Linked DNA regions of Homo sapiens. The protein of the gene in region 3 interacts with the protein of the main gene of each other region in a pairwise test. Each region holds a gene or a part of one and is shown on either strand. Other genes may lie near its edges.

Region 1 (3,656 bases), on a different chromosome or scaffold from region 3:
TATGTAGAGTGCCTGGGACTTAGTAGCTACTTAGTAGATGTCACTTATTATTAATATCAAGAACCATGGGAGGAAGAAGAGGATTTGCAGAAAGGGGAGCTCAGCTTTGTAGCTACTGACTTAGACAAACAGTAATGAAGGAGCTCTAAAGCCAGTTGAAAATGCAAGACTGGCCTGGAGGCAGGGCTAGGACTGGAGTCAGGGGACTGCCTGACTTGTCCCTGGCCCCCCGCTCTGCCTCAGGGTAAAGACTGGATTGTTTTCAGCATAAACACACTGATCATAACAGGTTAGGTTACCCAGACTAAGGGTAGAACTGGATAATTATGTACATCTAGGGTACTATTTTTACACTTCAATTTTAACATATAATAATTATACATATTTATGGGGTACAGAGTTGTATTTCTACACATGTATAAAATGTAATGGTCAATTCAGGGTAATTAGCATATCTGTCTCCTAAACATTAATCATTTCTTTGTGTTGGGAACATTTAAAATTCTCTCCTAGCTGTTTGAAAATATGCAATAAATTATTGTTAACTATAGTCATCCTACAATGCTATAGAGCACTAGAATTTATTCTTCCTATCTAATGTAATTTTGTATCCATTCACCATCCTCTCTCCCTATCTCCCCTCCACTTCCCAGCCTCTAGTAACCACAATTCTAATCTCCACTTATGTGAACACAACTATTTTAGGTCCGCATACGAAGGAGAATGCGCGGTATTTGTCTTTCTGTGTCTGGCTTATTGCACTTAACATAATGTCCTCCAGGCTCATTAGGGTACTATTTTGCAATTTTCTTTTCTGTAACTGAAACACACACACACATATACAATGGAAATTAAAGCTGCTTTTTTTTTTAAGTCTCTTGAAACAATTTTTACCTGTATTATATGCACTAGACTTACGACTATTTAATTATATTTGCATTAACAAAGAAGTGCTGGACTGGGCTTAGTGGCTCATGCCTGTAACCCCAGCACTTTGGAAGACTGAGGCGGGTGAATCCTTCGAGCTCAGGAGTTCGAGACCAGCCTGGGCAACATGGTGAAACCCGTCTTTACCAGAAATACAAAAATAAATTACCCAGGTGTGGTGGCATGCACTTGTGGTCCCAGCTACTCTGGAGGCTGGGATAGGAAGATCACTTGAGCCTGGCAGGCAGAAGTTGCAATGAGCCAAGATTGCACCAGCACCATTGCATTCCAAACTGGGTAATAGAGTAAGACCCCATCTAAAAAAAAAAAAAAAAAAAAAAAAAGCTGCTTGGGACCTACTGAGTTAATTTCATGATTATTAGTGAAATCAATCTGAAAAATACAAATATTCTAGGGTATTGAACCAACTGGAAGTCTTGAAGTGTTTTAAAGAGACTATAACCGATGTTATGGAGAATTAAGATAAAGACAGAAACAACTTGTGAATTTGGCAACTAGGAGGTCCTTTGTGACTTGAGAGTATAATTTCCATGCAGTGATTGTGGTTGGAGGCCAGATCACAGAGGCCTAAAGAGTCAGCAGTGTCATAGCCAACAGATACAGTACTGAGTTCTGCTTGCCTTTAAGTCATTACATCCCCAAACAAACCTTAGGAGGGAGAAGCTGTTATTACCCTCAGCTTTCCATTATAGGTAAGGAAAGTTATTTTCAGATGGGCTAAGTAACTTGCCCAAGGCCACATAGTGATGGAGCGCATCCGTCTGACAGCACAGCCCATGCTCCTGTCTGCAAGTCACCATCAGTGGCTCTTTGAAAGCAAAGTGAGGAAGAAACATGTCAGTTGAGAGGGTGGCAGAGTGGAAAAGAAGGTTAGTGTGTTATGTGTGGTCATGTTACTGGGGCCTTGGAGATCACTTCGTTCTGCTTTTCATTTTGTAAATGAGGAAACAGGCCTCGAGGCGTAAGGATTCTTAGGCAGGGTCACACAGCTAGTTATGCAAAACTGAAACCAGATTCCAGGTCTGACGTCGGTATGGATCACCTTCAAGCACTGCGTAGAATTCTTTCGTTTTTACTTTTTACTAAAATTATTTTTAATATAGTACATTATTAATGGTATCTTAAGCCTTGGCCCTTCAGATATTGTTCAGTAAGAGTGACTTAGGGGCTTTTTTTTGTTTTTTGTTTTGGTAACAGGTTTATTGAGATTCAATTCACATGCCATAGGCAATTTACCCATGTAAAGTGTACATTTTAGTTTTAGTATCTTCAGAGAATTGTACAGTCATCACCAAACTCAATTTTAGAACATTTTTATCATCCCCAAAAGAAACCTTCAACCACTCCTCCCCTGTGTTCTCCCAACTCCCTAGCCAGCCCCGGGCAATCGCTTATCTACCTTCTGTCTCAACAGATTTATCCATTCTGGACATTTCCTATAAATGGAATCATAGAATGTGTAGTCTTTCATATCTGGCTTCTTTCACTTAGCATAATATTTTCATGTATCAATCAGTACTTCATTTCTTTTTTCTTTTTTCTTTTTCTTTTTGGTAGAGATAGGGTCATGATATGTTGCTCAGGCTGGTCTTTAACTCCTGTGCTCAGGTGATCTCCAGCTTCGACCTCCTAAAGTGCTGAGGTTATAGTTGTGAGCCACCATACCCAGCCAGTACTTCATTTTTTTTGGTTGCTGGCATTAGCCTTTTCTCCAAGGAACCTGGTTCTATTAAAGATTTTTTATTTGTCAGTCTATATGCTATTTATTAGGCATGGTGGCTAATGCCTGTAATCCCAGCACTTTGGGAGGCCGAGGTGGGCAGATCACGAGGTCAGGAGATCGAGACCATCCTGGGCAACATGGCAAAACCCCGTCTCTACTAAAAATACAAAAATTAGCTGGATGTGGTGGTGCGTGCCTATAATCCCAGCTACTCGGGAGGCTGAGGCAGGAGAATCGCCTGAACCCAGGAGGCAGAGGTTGCAGTGAGCCGAGATCGTGCCACTGCACTCCAGCCTGGTGACAGAGTGAGACTCCATCTCAAAAAAAAAAAAAAAAAAAAAAAAAGTTACTGTTTTCTATTAGTAATTTATTCATTTGTTTTGATCATTATGGGTTCAACATCTCATTTTGTTTGAGGGGTTGTAAGTCATACTATTATTTATTTTGATGTTGAGATTATTTCAACTTTGGCCCATGAGAGCTGCTTCAAGTTGGCTTCCATGGCATTTTGACATGTTCACGATTCTTTGAGCACTTTACTACTTTGTGATGCGGGATTATTCTAGGCTCATCTTCTGTCTCTCTTGCTATAAGCCTGTTCTCCAAGGAACCCACGCTCTTTTAAATATTTTTATCCATTAATCTGTTTACTCATCTGTTAATCTATGAAAAACCATGAGTTTCTCCTGATACCTTCAATTCCAGCCTAATACCACAGGGCTCATTCTTCCCCCTTTCATGTTTGTAACTTACTTCCCAGAAGTTAAGAACCTGGCTCTCATTACCCTCAATATGTTTACTCCTTTTCTCAATCCTAGAGGTCACATAAGATAGTCTCAGAATTGCTAGCCCATACCACTACAGAAAACAAACCTGCTAACTGGAATTGAATATTTTTGTACAATGCCTATTAAGTGAAATGGGTATACATGGAGTGCAGATTTTAAGTATACAGTGCAAAGAGGGAGTATTTCTTTTCTTTTTT
Region 2 (3,288 bases), on a different chromosome or scaffold from region 3:
GATGAAGATCCTGTCTGTCTGCAGCTAGATGATATTGTAAGTGAATGTCTAAAATAATTGGTTTTTATTAATAATCTGTATATTCTCACTTCAGCATCTGAGTAGTACATGAGAGGGAGTAGTCAGGGTTGGGTATATAGCTGTTCATTTGTTAGTTCACTAAGAGCTGATTGTGTGCCTGCCCTGAACCAAGCCCCCAAATCTGTGTGTGCTGAATCTGTCTTGGATGTCCTTACCCACTAGAAGCTGTCAATGCTGTTTCACCAACAAGGTGATGGAAGAGCAGAAAACTATTAACAAGCATCTGTGAACACTATCTTTTCAGTGCTCGCAATAGTGGGATAATAGTAGCCCCATTTCCCAGTAGGAAAAAAAAAACCAGAGAGGTCAAGTAATTTCCCACAGGTGCAGATCCACTATATTGCAGAGTTGAGATTTGAACTCAGTTTTCTGTAGCTGCAAATAATCTTTTCTAGTGTGCTGCCTCCAGTATGTGCCTGATGCAGAGAGAGACCTAACCCAGAACTAAGACCTCTTACCGCCATTTCTACTGCTACCATCCCGTGTAAGAGCTGAGCGTACAAATCCTCATTTCCGTGGTTACAATGAGGGTGTGATGTGTTAGCTTGGGGAAAAAAGGACCAGAGGATTCTACCCTCAGTCATAAGCAGGAGGAAATACCACAGAGGTCAGTGATGTAGACACTGAAGCCACACTGCCAAAGTTCAAACCCCAGCCCTACTGCTCAGGAGCTGTGTGACCTGGGGCAAATTACTTTACCTTCCTGTGCCTCAGTTTCCCTATCTATAAAATGGGGACTCTGATAGCATATACCTTATAAGAATGATGTAAGGATTAAATGAGTTAACAAATGTTAAGCACTTAGGACAGTTACCACATAGTAATGTTATATAAGTGTCTGCTACTAATTATCGTGGTTTTCATTTCTGGGAGGATTGGGAGGAAGGAGACGTTAGGGAATTTCAGTATCCACATAACATATTTCTAAGTTGTGTTGTTTTAAATGAGCATGGGCTACTTTTATAAAAGCATTCAAAGAAAGAAATTAAAGGAAGAAATAGATTCACACAGTTTTCCCCAAGGATTTGTATGCTCAGCTCTTAACACGGGATGGCAGCAGTAGAAATGGCGGGTAGAGGTCTTAGTTCTGGGTTAGGTCTCTCTCCACAATGAATAGACAGGAATACTCCCATGCTGTCACCCTCCTAAACTCACACAGTTTTCCCCAAGGTCCCCTTCTAACCTCACACAGTTTTCCCCAAGGTCCCTTCCTAACCTCATACAGTTTTCCCCAAGATTCCCTCCTAACCCCGTTGCAGTGAATGAGACTCTGGAGGATGGGGTTATGCTTTGTCTAATGTGGGAGCCACATGGGCTGCATTGTTGGCCCAGGAGTTTTTTCAAACAAAACACTCTGTTGTAGTAACAAGTTTCACAGAAGAAACATTAAGCTGCCTCTCATATTGTAACCTTTGTCTCTCTCGTCATTTGCAGCTTTCTAAGACCTCTTCTGACTTAAGTAAAATGGCTGCTATATACCTGGTAGATGTGGACCAAACTGCAGTTTATACACAGTATTTTGACATCAGTTATATTCCATCTACTGTCTTTTTCTTCAATGGGCAGCATATGAAAGTGGATTATGGGTAAGTGCAGTTGATCTGAAGTTAATTGCAACCTTGTAAGTTTCCTTGGTAAGCATTTTCAGTAGCTTGCCTATTTCCATGTGATGTTGGCTCTGTGAGTCTTATATCAGTACTGTTTCCCCAATTGACGCACTCTCTAATTTTTTATGCAAAACCTTGCTACAAAATGAGAGTGCTTCTGGTATGATTGTCAAATTTTATTTATTTTTTTAATAGTGCATACACATGGTTTGTCAAATTTTAATTTCCGACTTAAGTATGAAGAAATAGTACAGGTGGCAAAGCACTACCATCCATAAGTCTATAAAATATAAAATAGCCATATTAGCTAAATAAAGAACTCTTAAAATTTTCCCAGGAATTTCATTTGAAACAAAACATGTAGTTTTTCTTAAGCTTTTGGACTGGTAAGTGGCATTTATGAAAGAAACATTCCTTCTAGCAAACTAAGATGTGCTTCTCTCTTGCAAAGTTTCCTGCTTTTCGCCATTGAATTTTAAATCATTCTTCAACAAAGCCTGTCAAGAATAAGTAACATGATGTCCTCTTTAGTGCCTTCCACTCCATCCAATTACCATCTCAATACTTAATATTGATGATTGGGTGCATCCATGATTCTGATCATTTCTTACTGTGGTTGATGTGTCCACTTATCTAGATCTGTGTACCCTTTTTGTCTTTATTTGAAAGTATGTGAAATATTATCTGTTTTAAAGTGTTTTAGGCTGGGCATAGTGGCTCACGCCTGTAATCCCAGCACTTTGGGAGGCCAAGGCAGGCGGATCATTTGAGGTCAGGAGTTCAAAACCAGCATGGCCAACATAGTGAAACCCCATCTCTACTAAAAATACAAAAATTAGCCAGGCATGGCCAGGCGCAGTGGCTCACGCGTGTAATCCCAGCACTTTGGGAAGCCGAGGCAGGCAGATTATGAGGTCAGCAGATCGAGACCATCCTGGCTAACACAGTGAAACCCTGTCTCTACTAAAAATACAAAAAATTAGCTGGGCGTGGTGGCGGGCGCATGTAGTCCCGGCTACTCTGGAGGCTGAGGCAGAAAAATGGCATGAACCCAGGAGGCGGAGCTTGCAGTGAGCCGAGAGCGCGCCACTGCACTCCATCCTGGGCAACAGAGCTGCCGTCTCAAAAAAAAGATTAGCCAGGCATGATGGTGGGTGCCTGTAATCCCAACTACTCAGGAGGCTGAGGCAGGAGATTCGCTTGAGCCCAGGAGGTGGAGGTTGCAGTGAGCAGAGAACGCACCACTACACTCCAGTCTGGTGACAGAGCAAGGCTCCATCGCAAAACAACAACAACAACAACAAAAAAAAAACACAAAAGTATTTTAAAGCTGTTTATTCTACTGGAACACATTTGATGTAAGTATTAATTTGGTACAACCTTTTATGGGGGCCAGTTCAACATTATGTATCAAATAGTTTAAAGTTTTTAAACTTTTTAACCCAGTAATTACACTTCCAGGACTTTAATATGATGTTGCAGATGCACATTTAACAAATGAAAGAAATATATGTCAGCTAGAAAAAAGCATATTACTGAATAATTTGTATGACATAATTCCCAATGTTGGGAAAAAAGAAGTTTGTATCTGCACATACAC
Region 3 (3,656 bases):
CTGCCTCAGGCTCCCGAGTAGCTGGGATTACAGGTGCCGCCACCACGCCTGGCTAATTTTTATATTTTTAATAGAGGTGGTGTTTCACCATGTTGGCCAGGCTGGTCTTGAACTCCTGACCTCAGGTGATCCACCCGCCTCAGCCTGCTGGAATTACAAGCATGAGCCACTGTGCCCGGCCATGAACCAGTGCTTCTAAGAGAACTCTGACTGCATTCTCATCTGCTTGGCTTGAATTCCCTTACCTGTGTGCCAGGGGGCAGGCCTAGTCAGTGAATATGTGGACAGGACTGGGAGGGAGGGAGGGAAGAGTCTGTAAAAGATGGGCAGTACCTTCCATATGCTAATTTGTTTCCTTCCTGTGATACTGGGGTCTGGAGGGTGGAGGCATGGCCTAGGCAGGCTCTTAAGCATCCCAGACACATTTATTTTTCCTGAATCAAACTCAGCCTCAGGCAGTGCCAGACCCAGAAGAGGGCTCTTCAGCACCTAGAAGCTGGAAAGGGATGAACAGGTAAGACTATTAGGGAATCTCTTGTTGGGAATTTGACATCTTAGAACATTCTGCAACCTTTTGCCTGGGAAATGGAAACAGATCTAATCTTTACCACCCTCATGGCTCAAGGACCTCATCTGGCAGCCTGGCTCATGTTTTTCAGCCAAGTAGCTTCCAGCTTACAGCAGCCCTCAAATTTGGACCTGCCACCAGCTCCAGAGCTTGACTGGATGGAGACAGGACCATCTCTGACATTCATTGGCCATCAGGTACAAAGGATAAGCAAGCCAGAAGAGGGCCAATGGTCCCTCAGGTCTCAGGACCCCTTTCTCCTGATTTTCTACCTATTCAAGCCACTGCTGCCTCCACTGCAGGCTTTTCCTTCTTCCTTCACTGTTCCCTAGTAGTGTTCTCAGACCTCTTCTCACCCTCCAAAGCGATCCTATTCACATGTATTGACACTTAGGAGTGCCAACTCCTAAATCTTGCCCTCTGTAGAACTCATAGTTCCAACTCAACACAGGACATTAAATATCCCACAGGCATCTGAAACTAACCCCCACCACTCCTATATTTCCAATCACTAGATGCAGATCCTTTCCTTTTCCATCTCCCATATCCTGTCAACAAGCGGTCAATTTTAACCTGTCTGCCTCCATTCAGCCTTTGGGCAATTTCTACTCCCCCTTCAATCCTGCCTCACAAACAGAAAATCATTGTACCACTTATGATTTTACTCTACACTTCAGCTGTATTGTGTTGCTTCGGGCTTTTGCAGTTGCCATTGTCTAAAACCTGCTTTCCTTCCCTCATCACCTAGTTTACCTTCAACTGTTAGCTCAAATGTCACTTTTTCATAAAAGGCTTATCTGAACAGGTTATCTCTATTTCAAGTGGATGTAGCACCATGTAAAGTTGCAAATGTAATTTACGTAACTTGTGCTTAATGCTCTTCCCCAATTATATGTATGCTGTGAGGGCAAGGTTTTGCTCCCCTGGCATGTAATAGCCACTCTACTTACAGACATCTCCACTGTTATGACTGTGAGCTTCCTGAGGACAGGGTTGTCTTAGAGTGACTTACTGTGCTTTCAAAGTTTAACATCAGCTGGGGTGCAGAATTAGCATTGTGGCAGCAGTCACACCCACCTCTTTTAAAGTGTGCTTTGTCTATCGTTTCTAGGATTTTTTTTTTTAATCATGCCTAGACTTTAACTAGCACTTTTTTTCCCATTTCCAACTACAGGATATACCAGGAGTTGGTAACATCCACTCAGGTAAGGTCCAGGGCAGTGTTTTTAAAACCCTGGGAGATTTTTTTTTTTTTTTGAGATGGAGTCTTGTTCTGTCGCCAGGCTGGAGTGCAGTGGCGCAATCTCAGCTCGCTGCAACCTCTGCCTCTCAGGTTCAAGTGATTCTTCTGCCTCAGCCTCCCAAGTAGCTGGGGTTACAGGTGTGCACCACCACACCCAGCTAATTTTTTTTTTTTTTTTTTTGAGACGGAGTCTCGCTCTGTCGCCCAGGCTGGAGTGCAGTGGCGGGATCTCGGCTCACTGCAAGCTCCGCCTCCCGGGTTCACGCCATTCTCCTGCCTCAGCCTCCCAAGTAGCTGGGACTACAGGCGCCCGCCACTACGCCCAGCTAATTTTTTGTATTTTCAGTAGAGACGGGGTTTCACCGTTTTAGCCGGGATGGTCTCGATCTCCTGACCTCGTGATCCACCCGCCTCGGCCTCCCAAAGTGCTGGGATTACAGGCATGAGCCACCGTGCCCGGACTTTTTTTTTTTTTTTAAATAAAGTTGGCCAAGATAAAGCGTATGTATCGGTAAAAGCCTTATATCCAGAATATATGAAGAACTGTCAACTTGATAAGGAAACAACCCAATAAAAGCATATGAATAATGTTCAACATTAGTCATTAGAGAAATGCAAATTAAAACCACAGTGAAATACCACTACATATGTATTGGAATGGCAGAAATTAAAGACTGATCATGCCAAGTGTTTGGCAGTGTAGAAAAACCAAACCTTCATACACTGCTCTTAGAATGTAAACTGGTACAGTCACTTTGGAAAACAGTTTGGGATACACCTACCACATTATCCAACCGTTCCACCCCTAACTAGAGAAAAGAAAGCCTGTCTACATAGACTTGTACACAAATCTTCAGAACAGCTTCACTTGTAGCAGCTCCAAATTGGAAACAATTCAGATGTCTATCAACAGGCAAATGGATTAACAATGGAATAGTATTCCAGGATGAAGACAGAATTATTGATACGTACGACACAGATGAATCTCAGAAGTCCAGACCTGGCCGGCGTGGTGGCTCATGCCTGTAATCCCGACACTTTGGGAGGCCAAGGCAGGCGGATCACGAGGTCAGGAGTTCAAGACCAGTTTGGCCAACATGGTGAAACCCCATCTCTACTAAAAATTCAAAAATTAGCTGGGCATCGCAGCGCACGCCTGTAATCCCAGCTACTTGGGAGGCTGAGGCAGAATTGTTTGAACCGAGACCTGGGAGGCGGAGGTTGCAGTGAGCTGAGATTGTGTCCAGCCTGGGCTAGAGCGAGACTCCTCTCAAAAAAACAAAAGGCCAGACCCCACCTCAATGTCCACACACAGAAAATCCTAAAAAATACAAACCAATAAAGCAACTGAAAGATCACCGATTGCCTGGACATGAAAATATTTTAATGGGGGCAGTGATACTTACAGGGGGATGTTTGGGGTCTAGATTGTAATGGCTTCGCTCAAAAGTCACCAAATTTAAGTGTGTATCGTTTATGTCAGTTGTGCCTCAAAGCCATTTTAAAATGACTGTCACATATGGGGTATGTCGCTTTAAATTAGCCTAGGGCCTTCTAAAGCTCCAGAATTCCTGGGCTTTGCTTTTAGACATTTCTAGCTCTTAATGAGGAGAGGTAAGCTAACAGCTAGGACATGTTTCACAATAGCCTGAAGACTTAAAAAAAAAAAAAAAAGCCTTAATTTTTTTTTCAGGTGCCACACCTCCCTGGATGATCCAAGATGAAGAATACATTGCTGGGAACCAAGAAATAGGACCATCCTATGAAGAATTTCTTAAAGAAAGTAAGTAAACTAATTCAAGAGAGGATCGTCTAAATCTTCACACTCAAAAATGGTTTCCTTGC

The links.
Region 1: the proteins of CENATAC (region 3) and MESD interact in binary tests that used the Homo sapiens proteins (3 or more experiments, as listed by UniProt).
Region 2: the proteins of CENATAC (region 3) and TXNL4B interact in binary tests that used the Homo sapiens proteins (3 or more experiments, as listed by UniProt).

The regions. Positions count from the first base shown.
Region 1 is NC_000015.10:80,983,255-80,986,910, reverse strand, and holds part of MESD (LRP chaperone MESD precursor), read left to right. Parts: intron 1-3,656. UniProt on the Homo sapiens protein: Chaperone specifically assisting the folding of beta-propeller/EGF modules within the family of low-density lipoprotein receptors (LDLRs).
Region 2 is NC_000016.10:72,087,366-72,090,653, reverse strand, and holds part of TXNL4B (thioredoxin-like protein 4B), read left to right. Parts: coding exon 1-36; intron 37-476; exon of another isoform or gene 477-565; intron 566-1,515; coding exon 1,516-1,667; intron 1,668-3,288. UniProt on the Homo sapiens protein: Essential role in pre-mRNA splicing. Required in cell cycle progression for S/G(2) transition.
Region 3 is NC_000011.10:119,011,490-119,015,145, forward strand, and holds part of CENATAC (centrosomal AT-AC splicing factor), read left to right. Parts: intron 1-449; coding exon 450-514; intron 515-659; coding exon 660-765; intron 766-1,742; coding exon 1,743-1,773; intron 1,774-3,504; coding exon 3,505-3,594; intron 3,595-3,656. UniProt on the Homo sapiens protein: Component of the minor spliceosome that promotes splicing of a specific, rare minor intron subtype. Negative regulator of centrosome duplication.